Regions from separate parts of the Homo sapiens genome. Here region 2 is linked to region 1. The links come from fine-mapping of genetic effects on gene expression. A gene starts in region 1. The other region holds a variant in brackets. All regions are shown on one strand. Distances are from middle to middle. Region 1 holds the start of STMN1 (stathmin 1). Region 2 overlaps PAFAH2 (platelet activating factor acetylhydrolase 2).

Region 1 (5,375 bases):
CCCTATCTCCACTTCGTTGTGTGGCTCCATAGTCACAGCCAGCTCCATAACAATCCAACCAAACCATCTGAGCAGAAGCAAAAATAATTCTTATGGGCAAAGATAGACAGTTCCAAGATGTGAACATTAACTCCTTGCTGCCACTTCAGAAGAGAGTGGATCTTGAAGTTCGTTTTAGGAAGCTTTCGAGAAGGGCGATTCTGCCCCTCTCCAAGGTGAAGTGGCAAAACTGTTGTCTCTCCTTACAGTTGAAAGCCCTTCCTATTCCAAGGCTTATATAGGACACCCACAAAAGCTGACAATAATGAGCTGTGATCTGGCTCTTGGGAAGGCAGCCCCACCCTAAAGAACAAGGATCAGACTGGGTGTGGTGGCTCATGCCTGTAATCCCAGCACTTTGGGAGGCTGAGACAAGAGGATTGCTTGAACCCAGGAGTTCGAGGCCAACCTGGGCAACATAGTGAGACCCTGTCTCAATTTTTTTTAAGTCAAATAATAATAATAATAATAATAATAATAATAATAATAATAATAATAATAAAAGGACAGGAATCCCACCTCAAAAGCACCTTTTTATTCAAAGGCTCATTCTAGGGGAAACTTTAACCCAGCCCTCTCAGTCCTCAAGCAGCTGTGAGGAGCTTGGAACATTGTCACAGACTGGCAGAACCAGGCATCTCCCAACAAACCCAGAAGCCAAGTGGCATTGCTAAAAAAGATTAAAAATGAACATGAGTTCTAACATCTACGTTCCTTGCTATGGTTTCCATGGAAATAGACATCTGCTCTAGGGAGAAAGAAAATGTGGGGGGAAGCAGTGTAAGTGCTTTCAAATTATCAGTGTTTTGAAAGATTTATTTCTTTTTTCTGTCACAACATTAATAGTCAGGAATGTGAGACTTTTGTGTGGCAATTTATTGTACTTAAAAAAATGCATTAAATGAGTGGGACCTTCCTCTGTGAACCTCCAGATCAAATACAAAGACTTCAAGATAAAAAGCCTGTTCAGTGGGTAAGGACCTCTTGGGCTTGGGTTCCTTGCTCATTTGTGTTGCCTGCCTATCTGTCGCTTTCCTGAGGGGTCTCATGCCCATCCTTCTCCAACTTTTCTAATGATGTCTGAGATTCTGTTCAGAAAAATGACAGACGGAAGCACCTAGCCATTTTGAAGCTAAGTTTGGTCTGAGAAGAAGCCTTTCAAGGCTCAGTATCTGAATTATTCCTGGTCCTGCTCACAGGCTAAGTGAAAACCACTTCGATTGGCTTGGGGGGGAGGCCGACCCCACACAAGGGCGATTGTTGGAAAAAATGCCGCAACAAGCATATTTCAGGCAACAGCGCATTGCTAATTGTTTGCTTTGTGTAGTGTGCTGCTGCTTGTATGATCCAGTTTTTATTGTCTTGGGCACCCCTTAGTTGTATTTTATCTCTGGCACATCCCTGGTGACTAACTAGGCATGAGAGTCTTTCTAAATTAGGACTGTTGTTTCAGGAAGGTTGGTCACATTTGTTTCTTGATTTGGGGAGATGCAGCTCATTAATAAAATAAAGATATCTCTTCTGCTTAGTCAAGATCTCAAAGCAGGTGTCTTGGTGTATTGACCACCAACCGAGGACACGGTCTTGGTCAGAGAATGGGAGGAGGCGGGGACCATGTTCATTTCATTTATTTTTTTCCCCTTTTTGTGAGAGAAAGGGCCAGTTATTCTAAGGCACGGTCAGACCAATTTCCTTTGTGCCTTTGCTGAGGTTCTGAGCTATCCAGGTCAGGGAGAACAGTGACCTTGTGGCTCCTTTTTCGATTTTTAAAAAGAACCCAGTGCTGCTCTGGGGAGCACGTGCTCTGAGAACAAAAGCAACACTTAACTGCAATCTGTGTAGTCTAGAACGGCTATTGCTCTTCCTCCCCTATCATCCGCAGAAGGCTTGGAAGAACAGATGGAGTCTGCATTTAAGCTGAGTGGCTTTGTTAGACCAAAGGCGATCAAATTCCAGAGCCCCACGCTTTCCCGCACAGGTCCCTGGTCACCGGCTCGGGAACCTGAGGATGCTGGCAAGAACGCACACAGTGAGGGAAGGGCCACGCCCGCGACCTGTGGGCTGAGTGGATTAGAAATTACGATGATGTCACAATATGGGTGACACGCCGGTGTCGGTGTAGGGTGCCGGGGGCAGGGGGCCCTGCAGGGGCGTGGAGTGGCATTGTGCTGTCACAGGGGCTCGGGCGTCTTAGGCACCCATGTGGGTGGCGCACTAGAAGGGGCACTGCTCTGTCCGAGTGCTGCCCTTGGGGCGAGGCGGGCATGTGGCTCTACAAGGTGGAGTCCAGGCGGCCAAAGTTTGGAAAGGTAGGGAAGGACCCCCCCGCCCTCCGCCTGCTCCGCCCTGCCCTTGTTCTCGAGAATGGGGAGCTGGTTCGGACCTAGTCCGGGGTCCACTGCCACGCCCTCTTCCACGGCGAGACCACCCCCCTAGTCCCAGGCCCACACCTGGGGATGCTCCCCAGGCGCCCTGCAACCCCCGGCATTGTCCTCCTGCCCTCCGGGACAGGACTACACTTCCCGAGGTGCTTCGGGGTCCCGGGGGGCGGCGCTCCACGCGGGTTGTGGGGGGCGGGGGCGGCACGTGCCGCCGCTCTCGGCCAATGCGGAGCCCCGCGCGGAGGTCACGTGCCTCTGTTTGGCGCTTTTGTGCGCGCCCGGGTCTGTTGGTGCTCAGAGTGTGGTCAGGCGGCTCGGACTGAGCAGGTGGGTGCGGGGCTCGGAGGAGGCGGCGGCTGGCTGAGGCCAGCAAGAGGGACGCGGTCGGCGGGAGGGGCTGGGCCGTGGCAGCGACCCCCTGCTGCAGGGCGGCGGGCGGGGCTGCGGGCCTCGGAGGGGTTGGTGGGCGGGGGTCGCTCCGCTTTGTGTGTGGCTCGGGCGGAGCCTCGCCTTTGTCCCCGCTCTCCGGGGGCGCGGCTGTTCGTGGGCAGGGGGCTGGGCGATCACCGGGCGTCCGCTCCGGGGTGCCGTCGAGGAGACAATAGGGGGCGTGGGCCCTCGTTTACCTCCCTCCCTCCCTCCCTTCCCTGCGGGCCCCGCCGGGTTCCCCATTGTCTGAAGGGACGGGGCGGTGCCCCAGGGACCAGCGGCTTTAGGACCAAACTGCGGGCAGCCAGGGCCGCGACCCTCCCTGCGACCGTCCCCTGGCGACCGCAGCTGGTGATTGAGGGGCGGCGCTCCCGGGCCCCACGAGGGTTCTTCTGTCTTCGCGGCCGGACGCGCGGACAGCGTGGGTGGCGGCAGGTTGGGCATGGGGACGGCGGGAGGCGGTGGCGAGCTCACCGCGGGACCACCCGGGGGCCTGTTCCCGGGGCCTGCCCCACCCGCTGAACTGTGAAGGGGGTGGTGGCGGCGGCCTGGAGGTGTTTTTGGCGGGAGTTGGGGGGGGCGTCCGCGCAGGGGGAGTCAGGCAGGGGCGGAGTTACCCGGATTGGACCGTTAGCCCCGCCCACCCCTCCCCTTCCCACGCGCGCGGGCTCCGGGGTGTTGAGTTCGGGGAGATTCGAAAAGGCGCGGGGAGGAAGGGGGCGGGGCCAGGGGCCGGAGCGCAAGGCGTGCTCTGATTGGCCGGGGGCGACCGGTCCTCTTTTCCTCGCCCGGACCAGGGCCACGCCCATCCTGGGTCCGGTGCTGCGTCTAATTCTCTGCTTTTCTTAAATCTTGTCGCTGCCTCTGATTTTAATTCCTAGCTTTTGGGAACCTGTCATCCTACGTTTTTGGTACTAGCTGGCGTCTACAAAAGTCATAATGTTAAAAAGATCAACAAGAGATACAGCATTTTTCATGACATAACGGCAGCAAATATAAGTCAAAATCTAGAGGTTCATAAACATTTTGCTTGCTGTTGGGCAAGGAAGCTTAAACCTGAGGGACAATAGGAGTTCAACATTATTGGTTACTATTAGCTTGGGCGTTTTCTTATCCACCACGTCAGACACAGACAAAGCAGGGGTGGGTATTTCATTTGCACAATGAGTTGTAGGCAGTATTAAGATGGCTCCGGGGGCACTGTTGAGTTGAATCTGGAATATCTTCTTACAGTTTCGGTGAAATGTTAAAGAGTTTATGGGGGAAAAATTCTTCACCCTTGTGACTTTGTCTGATTTTAAAAATCCAAGAGTTTTATGACCGAGAAAGCTCAGTTAACTTGATTTTCTGGAACCAATATCATATTCAGGTCATATTTCCCAATGTTTATTTAGTAGATTTTGATAATTTTTTTCGTGGTTAATTTAGACGTCTTTATTCCACGTATTTTTCTGACGATGTATGTAGATGTGATGTGAGATTTTTTTGGGTTGATGACATATAGAAAGGCAAAGAAAGTGATTGCATGTTTTTGAAAATCATTTTCAGGACTTTCCTTATCCCAGTTGATTGTGCAGAATACACTGCCTGTCGCTTGTCTTCTATTCACCATGGCTTCTTCTGGTAGGTAATCTATTTGGAAAATCTGAAATTGTAATGGGCTTATGATTTTAGATTGAGATGGCTCAGGTCTTCGCCTTTGATTTGGCACTTATGTTTTGGTCTTACCAAAACCTATTTTATGAATAGGAGAAGAATTTAAAAATGATTATCACTTGAATGTGCCGAGAGCTCGTAATTGTTTATTGGACAGTTTGGCTTAGTCTGAAGCAAAATTGTGGAGTTTGCACAAGTCTTTTGTTTATGAAAGCGATTGTCAGATACTGATGTCTCAAAACAGTATTTATTAATCCAAAAATGTTGAGCTTTGTTTTTCTGGGAGATGGTTTTTATTTTTTTTGAGACAGGGTCTCACCTTGTTGCCCAGGCTGGAGTGCAGTGGCTTAATTATAGCTCATTGCAGCCTTGACTTCTGGAGCTCAAGTGGGCTCAAGCGATTCTCCCACCTCAGCCTCCATAGCATCTGGGACTATCGACATGGGCCACCACACCCACCTAATCAAAAAAAATTTTTTTTGTAGAGATGGGCTTTCCCTTTGTTGCCCAGGCTGGTCTCAAACTTCAGGGCTCAAGGGATCTTCCCATGTTGGCCTCCCACGGTGCTGGGATTATAGGCATGAGCCATGGTACCTGGCCTTGGGAAATGGTATTTAGATAATAATATCTTGCCTGCAAATACATCTTCCCCTAGTGTCAGTAGACTGATAGGAATAAAAAGGGGAAAAAAAACACAACTTTCCTCATCAGCCCTAGTTTAATACATTAAATTGATTTGGGTTTTAGAAAATTATAGTACAGTTTATTAGAACAGGAGAATCCTGGTTTTCTGAATTATAAATATAATCAATTCTAGATATCCAGGTGAAAGAACTGGAGAAGCGTGCCTCAGGCCAGGCTTTTGAGCTG
Region 2 (5,375 bases), 82 kb before region 1:
ATCACGAGGTCAGGAGATCAAGACCATCCTGGCCAACATGGCGAAACCCCGTCTCTACTAAAAATTAAACAAAAAATTAGCTGGGCATGGTGGCACGTGCCTGTAATCCCAGCTACTCAGGAGGCTGAGGCAGGAGAATCGCTTGAACCAGGGAGTCGGAGGTTGCAGCGAGCAAGATCATGCCACTGCACTCCAGCCTAGCAACAGAGCGAGACTCCGTCTCAAAAAAAAAAGTACCTACCTCAGAGAGTGGTTGAGACAATGAAATGATGCAATGTGTATAGTGTCTATAAAGAGGTCAGTACAGTGCTAACCGTAAATAATGGATCTTAGTGGTTACTATTAGCCTCAGGAGAGCAAGGTCTGTGTGACAGTCTCTGCAGCAGTAGCTGCTGGATAAACATACGTTAATGGGCTGTAAGGAGTATGGATGGCTCTCTTTCGTCTTCCAGCCATCTCCTCACCCTAGCAAAATAAAAAACAACCCCCAACCTTGGCAAAGGCAATGTAGCAAAGTAGTAGGTGCAAGATTTAATGAGCGACGGCAGGGAGGATGAGGTGCTAAGGAGGGGTGGACAGGGTAACAGATAACACATTTCAGCAACAGGAAGCCGAGAGGAAACCAGCAAGCGGCTGCTGTTCTGTGTTCCCCCATCCAGCCAGCAAGTTCAGCTCCGGCAAGTCATTTGATTCACCCGGTGATGAAATGGGGGTCAACCAGTCTGTGGGCTTTCCACCTGTCACAGGACCCCACCTCGTAGGCTGTGGGGATGTGATGGAGGGTCAGAATCTCCAGGTAAGTGTCCCCAGCTCCCTTTCTTCTGTTTGCACTGCTTCTGCCGGCACCGTGACTTACTGATCACAAGTCTGATCCTGTATTCCCACGGTGGGGAAAATGAATTAGAGCGGGTCTGGATTTGGTTATCAAGCCCCCAGGTCTGTCTTCCTGAGCTTTTTCTTCCTCTTTCCAAACATTAGAAACATCCCAATAGACAGAGATAATGCGTTCATTTTCCACCTAGGAGGAAAGGGGGGACTCTAGCTTTAGAGGCAGCTCGCAGATCCTCTCACCTTTCTTGAGGGCAGATGCCTGATCTTGGAAGGGTTTTAATCGTATCATAATCTGAGTGTGTGAGAGAAAGAGCCATGGGCGTGTGCCTTTGGCCTTGGACTCCCTGACCTGGGTAGGGGGACAGCTTCCTTTTCTCTCTCCTGCCTTGATCTGTTTTCCCCTCCTGCTTTGACTTCTGGACTGGTCCTCTATCTTATATATATGTATATATAGTAGAGACGAGGCCTTGCTATGTTGCCCAGGCTGATGTCTAACTCCTGGCCTCAAGCGACTCTCCTACCTCGGCTTCCCAAAGTGCTGGGATTACAGGCATGAGCCACTGTGCCTGGCTTAGTTCCTAGGTCTTTCTCTGCTAGCCCTTGGACTTCCTGTCTCCCTTGAGAGGCACACACTTCCTAGTAACCCCTCACCTACTCCCATGTAAAATGAGTGTGCTGTTGCTTCCCAGGGGCTGTCCTAGAGCAGAGTGGCCTGGATGAGCTACCAAGGCCACCCTGTTCAGCACGAGAACTAATCTCTAACTCCTGGGGCTCCTCTAGGCCTAGGTTCAGGGCCAGATTTAAATCTTTCATTGTCCCAAGCACTCAAATATTTTTGGTGCCCCCTCCCACAATGTAATTCAAAATACAGTTGGCTATTTGAAATAACGTAAGCTTTACATATATGCTAAAAATCAAATTGCTTCTTTCCAGATTTCTGAATGTGAAATTCAGGCATGCTAATTGAAACTTCAGTTTCCCTGTTTTGGTGCCCTGTTTTGCTGGTGCCCCAAACACCTGCTGAGTGTGGCTGTTGGGAAATCTAGCCTGGGCTCCTTGCTCTGAGCAGCTGCTCTCTTCTTTCCTACAGGGGAGCTTCTTTCGACTCTTCTACCCCTGCCAAAAGGCAGAGGAGACCATGGAGCAGCCCCTGTGGATTCCCCGCTATGAGTACTGCACTGGCCTGGCCGAGTACCTGCAGTTTAATAAGCGCTGCGGGGGCTTGCTGTTCAACCTGGCGGTGGGTAAGGGCTGGCCTGACCTCTGCATGCTTTCCCAGTTGCTTGGTTATGTTCCTGGGAGATCCCCAGGTGGACGCAGTACCTTATAGCCTGCAGTGTCCAGGCTTTTGTAAGGGGCATCCATTAGCCAGTGTGGTATGGAGAGTTGGGAGAGAATTACATATGAAAGAGCTTTGGTGACTGAGTTAGACTTTCCTGGATTCAAATCCAGACTTTATAAGTTACTAGCCATGGGGTTTGGGCAAGTTACTGAACCTGTCTAAATACATGTCTTTGGGGGTTTGTAGTACGGGATGTACGTAAAGCCTCTAATGCGGTGCTTGGGACATATAATGTGTTCCATAAATGGCACTGATTGCTCCTTTGTTTAGCATGTATTAATTCCTACTCTGTGCCAGCTATTGTGTGTATCAAAGAAAGATTCTTAACTGTCAAGGAGCGTACAGTTTCCTGCAGTTTTCCCTCCAGTCACCCCTCTTCTGAGTAGGGTAACATTGAGTCATCCACTTCCCCCAAAGGTCCCACACCTAGGAATTCCACCCAGTGCCTTGGCATCTCAGCAGTTTACCCCGGGTTCAGTACTGCCACTTTGGACTTAGCTTCCCATTTTCTTTTCCTTTTTTTTTTTTTTTTTTTTTTTTTTTGGTGAGATGGAGTCTTGCTCTTGTTGCCCAGGCTGGAGTGCAATGGCACAATCTCAGCTCACTGCAACCTTCGCCTCCAGGGTGCAAGTGATTCTCCTGCCTCAGCCTCCTGAGTAGCTGGGATTATAGGAGCCCGCCACCACGCCCAGCTAATTTTTGT[A/G]TTTTTAGTAGAGACGGGGTTTCACTTGGCCAGGCTGGTCTCTTGACCTCGTGATCCGCCCTCCTTGGCCTGCCAAAGTGCTGGGAATACAGGCGTGAGCCACTGCGCCTGGCTTAGCTTCCCATTTTCTGTTGTGTTCACTCTTCCTAGGGAAGAAAGGGAGAAGAAATAGGTGATTAACTGCCCTGAGCTGCTCAGGGGCCGATGGTGGTTCTCCAGAGGGGAGAAACACATGTCCCCACCCATACCTATACTCAGGCTGCCCTTGGGATAACAGCTTTGGGGCAGCCAGATATTCTATAGCCCATGTCTCTGCTAGGATCTTGTCGCCTGCCTGTTAGCTGGAATGGCCCCTTTAAGACAAAGGACTCTGGATACCCCTTGATCATCTTCTCCCATGGCCTAGGAGCCTTCAGGTAAGAGCTTCTTTCCCCCAGACCTTGCCATACTCCTTGCCTGGTGACAGCTGCTGAGTCTTAGCTTATTCTCAAAGGGCAAAAAAAAGACATTTCCATCTGCTAGCTGTCTTATCTCCCATCTGCTTCGTCCCATAGCATTGGGTTCACCTTCCCCAGAAGGCCTTTTTCAAGTCCTTTTCACCTTGTGGAGCCTTTCAGCAGCCTTTATATGCTTTACTTCTCATGGTCCAGCATTTATATAAATAAACACTTTTAGCTTTCCTCCTATGTGATAGCCCAGAAATGCTAGAAGGAGCATGAGCTTTGTGATCAGAGCATCATTTATTTATCTATTTTATTTTTATTTTTTTCAGACAGGGTCTCATTCTGTTGCCCAGGCTGGAGTGCAGTGGTGTGATCACAGCTCACTGCAGCCTCAACCTCTTGGGCTCAAGCAGTGCTCCTGCCTCAGCCACCAAGTAGCTGGCACGTACCACCACGCCTGGCTATTTTTAAATTTTTTTTTTTTTTTTCAGGGACGAGATCTCACTGTGTTGCCCATGCTGATCTTGAATTCCTGAGCTCAAGCCATCCTCCCGTTCTAGCCTTCCAAAAGTGCTGAGATTATAGGCATGAGCCATTGTGCCCCACCAAGAGTCATTTATTTAACATGAGGGTTCACTCTGTGTGTGGCATTGGCGTAGTAGCGAATAAGAGACTTGCTCCCTGCACTTGTGGAGCCAGCAGCCTCGGCCTCCCAAAGTGCTGGGATTACAGGCGTGAGCCACTGCGCCCGGCCCCATGTGTTCTTATTTAAGCTTGTGAATGTTCTCTCTGTCTGTTCATCAACATATATGTCTAGTTTAGGTCCCAGAATGTTGCACATCTCAAAGGCATCTGTTTTTGCCTCTCAGCCCCCAAACCATTGTCCACATTGTAGCCATGGAGATCTTTTTATTTTATTTTATTTTATTTTATTTTATTTTATTTTATTTTATTTTATTTTATTTTTTCTGAGACAGAGTCTCGATCAGTCGCCCAGGCTGGAGTGCAGTGGCGTGATCTCGGCTCACTGCAACCTTTGCCTTCCGGGTTCAAGCGATTCTTCTGCCTCAGCCTCCAAGTAGCTGGGATTACAGGCACCCAACACCATGTCCAGCTAATTTTTGTAGAGACAGGGCTTCACCATGTTAGCCAGCCTGGTCTTAAACTCTTGACCTCAGGCAATCCACCTGCCTCAGCCTCCCAAAGTGCTAGGATTACAGGCATGAGCCACCGCGCCTGTCAGGGAGATCTATTTTAAAACGAAATATGATCTTGTCATTCCAGCACTCAAAGCAGTGCCCAGCATATAATAGGTACTCAATAAATATTTGTTGAGTGAATGAATGAATGTTTTTTCCCACTTAAAAATTTTTGGCCGAGCGCGGTGGCTCACGCCTGTAATCCCAGCATTTTGGGAGGCCGAGGTGGGTGGATCACCTGAGGTTGGGAGTTCGAGACTAGCCTGACCAACATGGAGAAACCCTGTCTCTACTAAAAATACAAGAAATTAGCCAGGTGTGGTGGTGCATGCCTGTAATCCCAGCTACTTGGGAGGCTGAGGTAGGAGAATTGCTTGAACCTGGGAGGTGGAGGTTGCAGTGAGCCAAGATTGTGCCATTGCACTCCAGCCTTGGCAACAAGAACAAAACTGCATCTCAGAAAAAAAAAATTTAATAGCTCTTTGAACCTAATTCAGTTCTTTTCATGGTCTTACCTCAATGCAGGTCCAAGACAAAGTTTCTAGGCCTGTTCCTTGCTATTTGCCCCAGTGTAGCTCTCCAGACAAAATGGCCTTCTTTCACTTACTGAAAGGCACTGGGTTATTTCCTCCCTCGCTGTCTTCATCTGTGCTATGCTTTGTGGCTGATCTTTTTGCCTGGACTATTCACCGTTCTGCTCTTCTCTTCCTCTTGCCCCTCTCCGTCTTTTCCTGCTAATTCCAGATTACCTTTAAGATCTTAGTTTGGATGTCATTGTCCTAGGGACACCCATCTTGACACCTATATTATATTAGGTTAATTTTTCCAGAATGTGCTTTCATAAGACAATCTATACT

What was found. PIP is the estimated chance that this variant, and not a neighbour inherited with it, causes the effect.
Region 2: its variant is the best candidate, but not a certain one, in a credible set for the expression of STMN1 in whole blood (INTERVAL, PIP 0.60).

The regions. Positions count from the first base shown.
Region 1 is chr1:25,903,761-25,909,135 of GRCh38, reverse strand. STMN1 (stathmin 1) reads left to right here and starts at 2,717. Exons shown (of 5, transcript NM_005563.4): 1 at 2,717-2,747; 2 at 4,398-4,472; 3 at 5,323-5,375. The coding sequence starts at 4,460. It overlaps MIR3917 (microRNA 3917), which reads left to right and starts at 2,682; the gene lies at 2,682-2,774. LOC105376885 (a long non-coding RNA gene) reads right to left here and starts at 2,586. Exons shown (of 2, transcript XR_947102.1): 1 at 2,490-2,586; 2 at 893-2,100. RefSeq lists silencers at 2,475-2,784, 2,805-2,894, 3,285-3,704, 3,484-3,778.
Region 2 is chr1:25,986,148-25,991,522 of GRCh38, reverse strand. PAFAH2 (platelet activating factor acetylhydrolase 2) reads left to right here. Exons shown (of 11, transcript NM_000437.4): 2 at 660-796; 3 at 1,922-2,075; 4 at 3,196-3,292. The coding sequence starts at 707. Among named protein-coding and RNA genes, the nearest start is that of PAFAH2, 9.2 kb to the left of the region's middle. The variant A/G (reference allele first, on the strand shown) is at 2,877.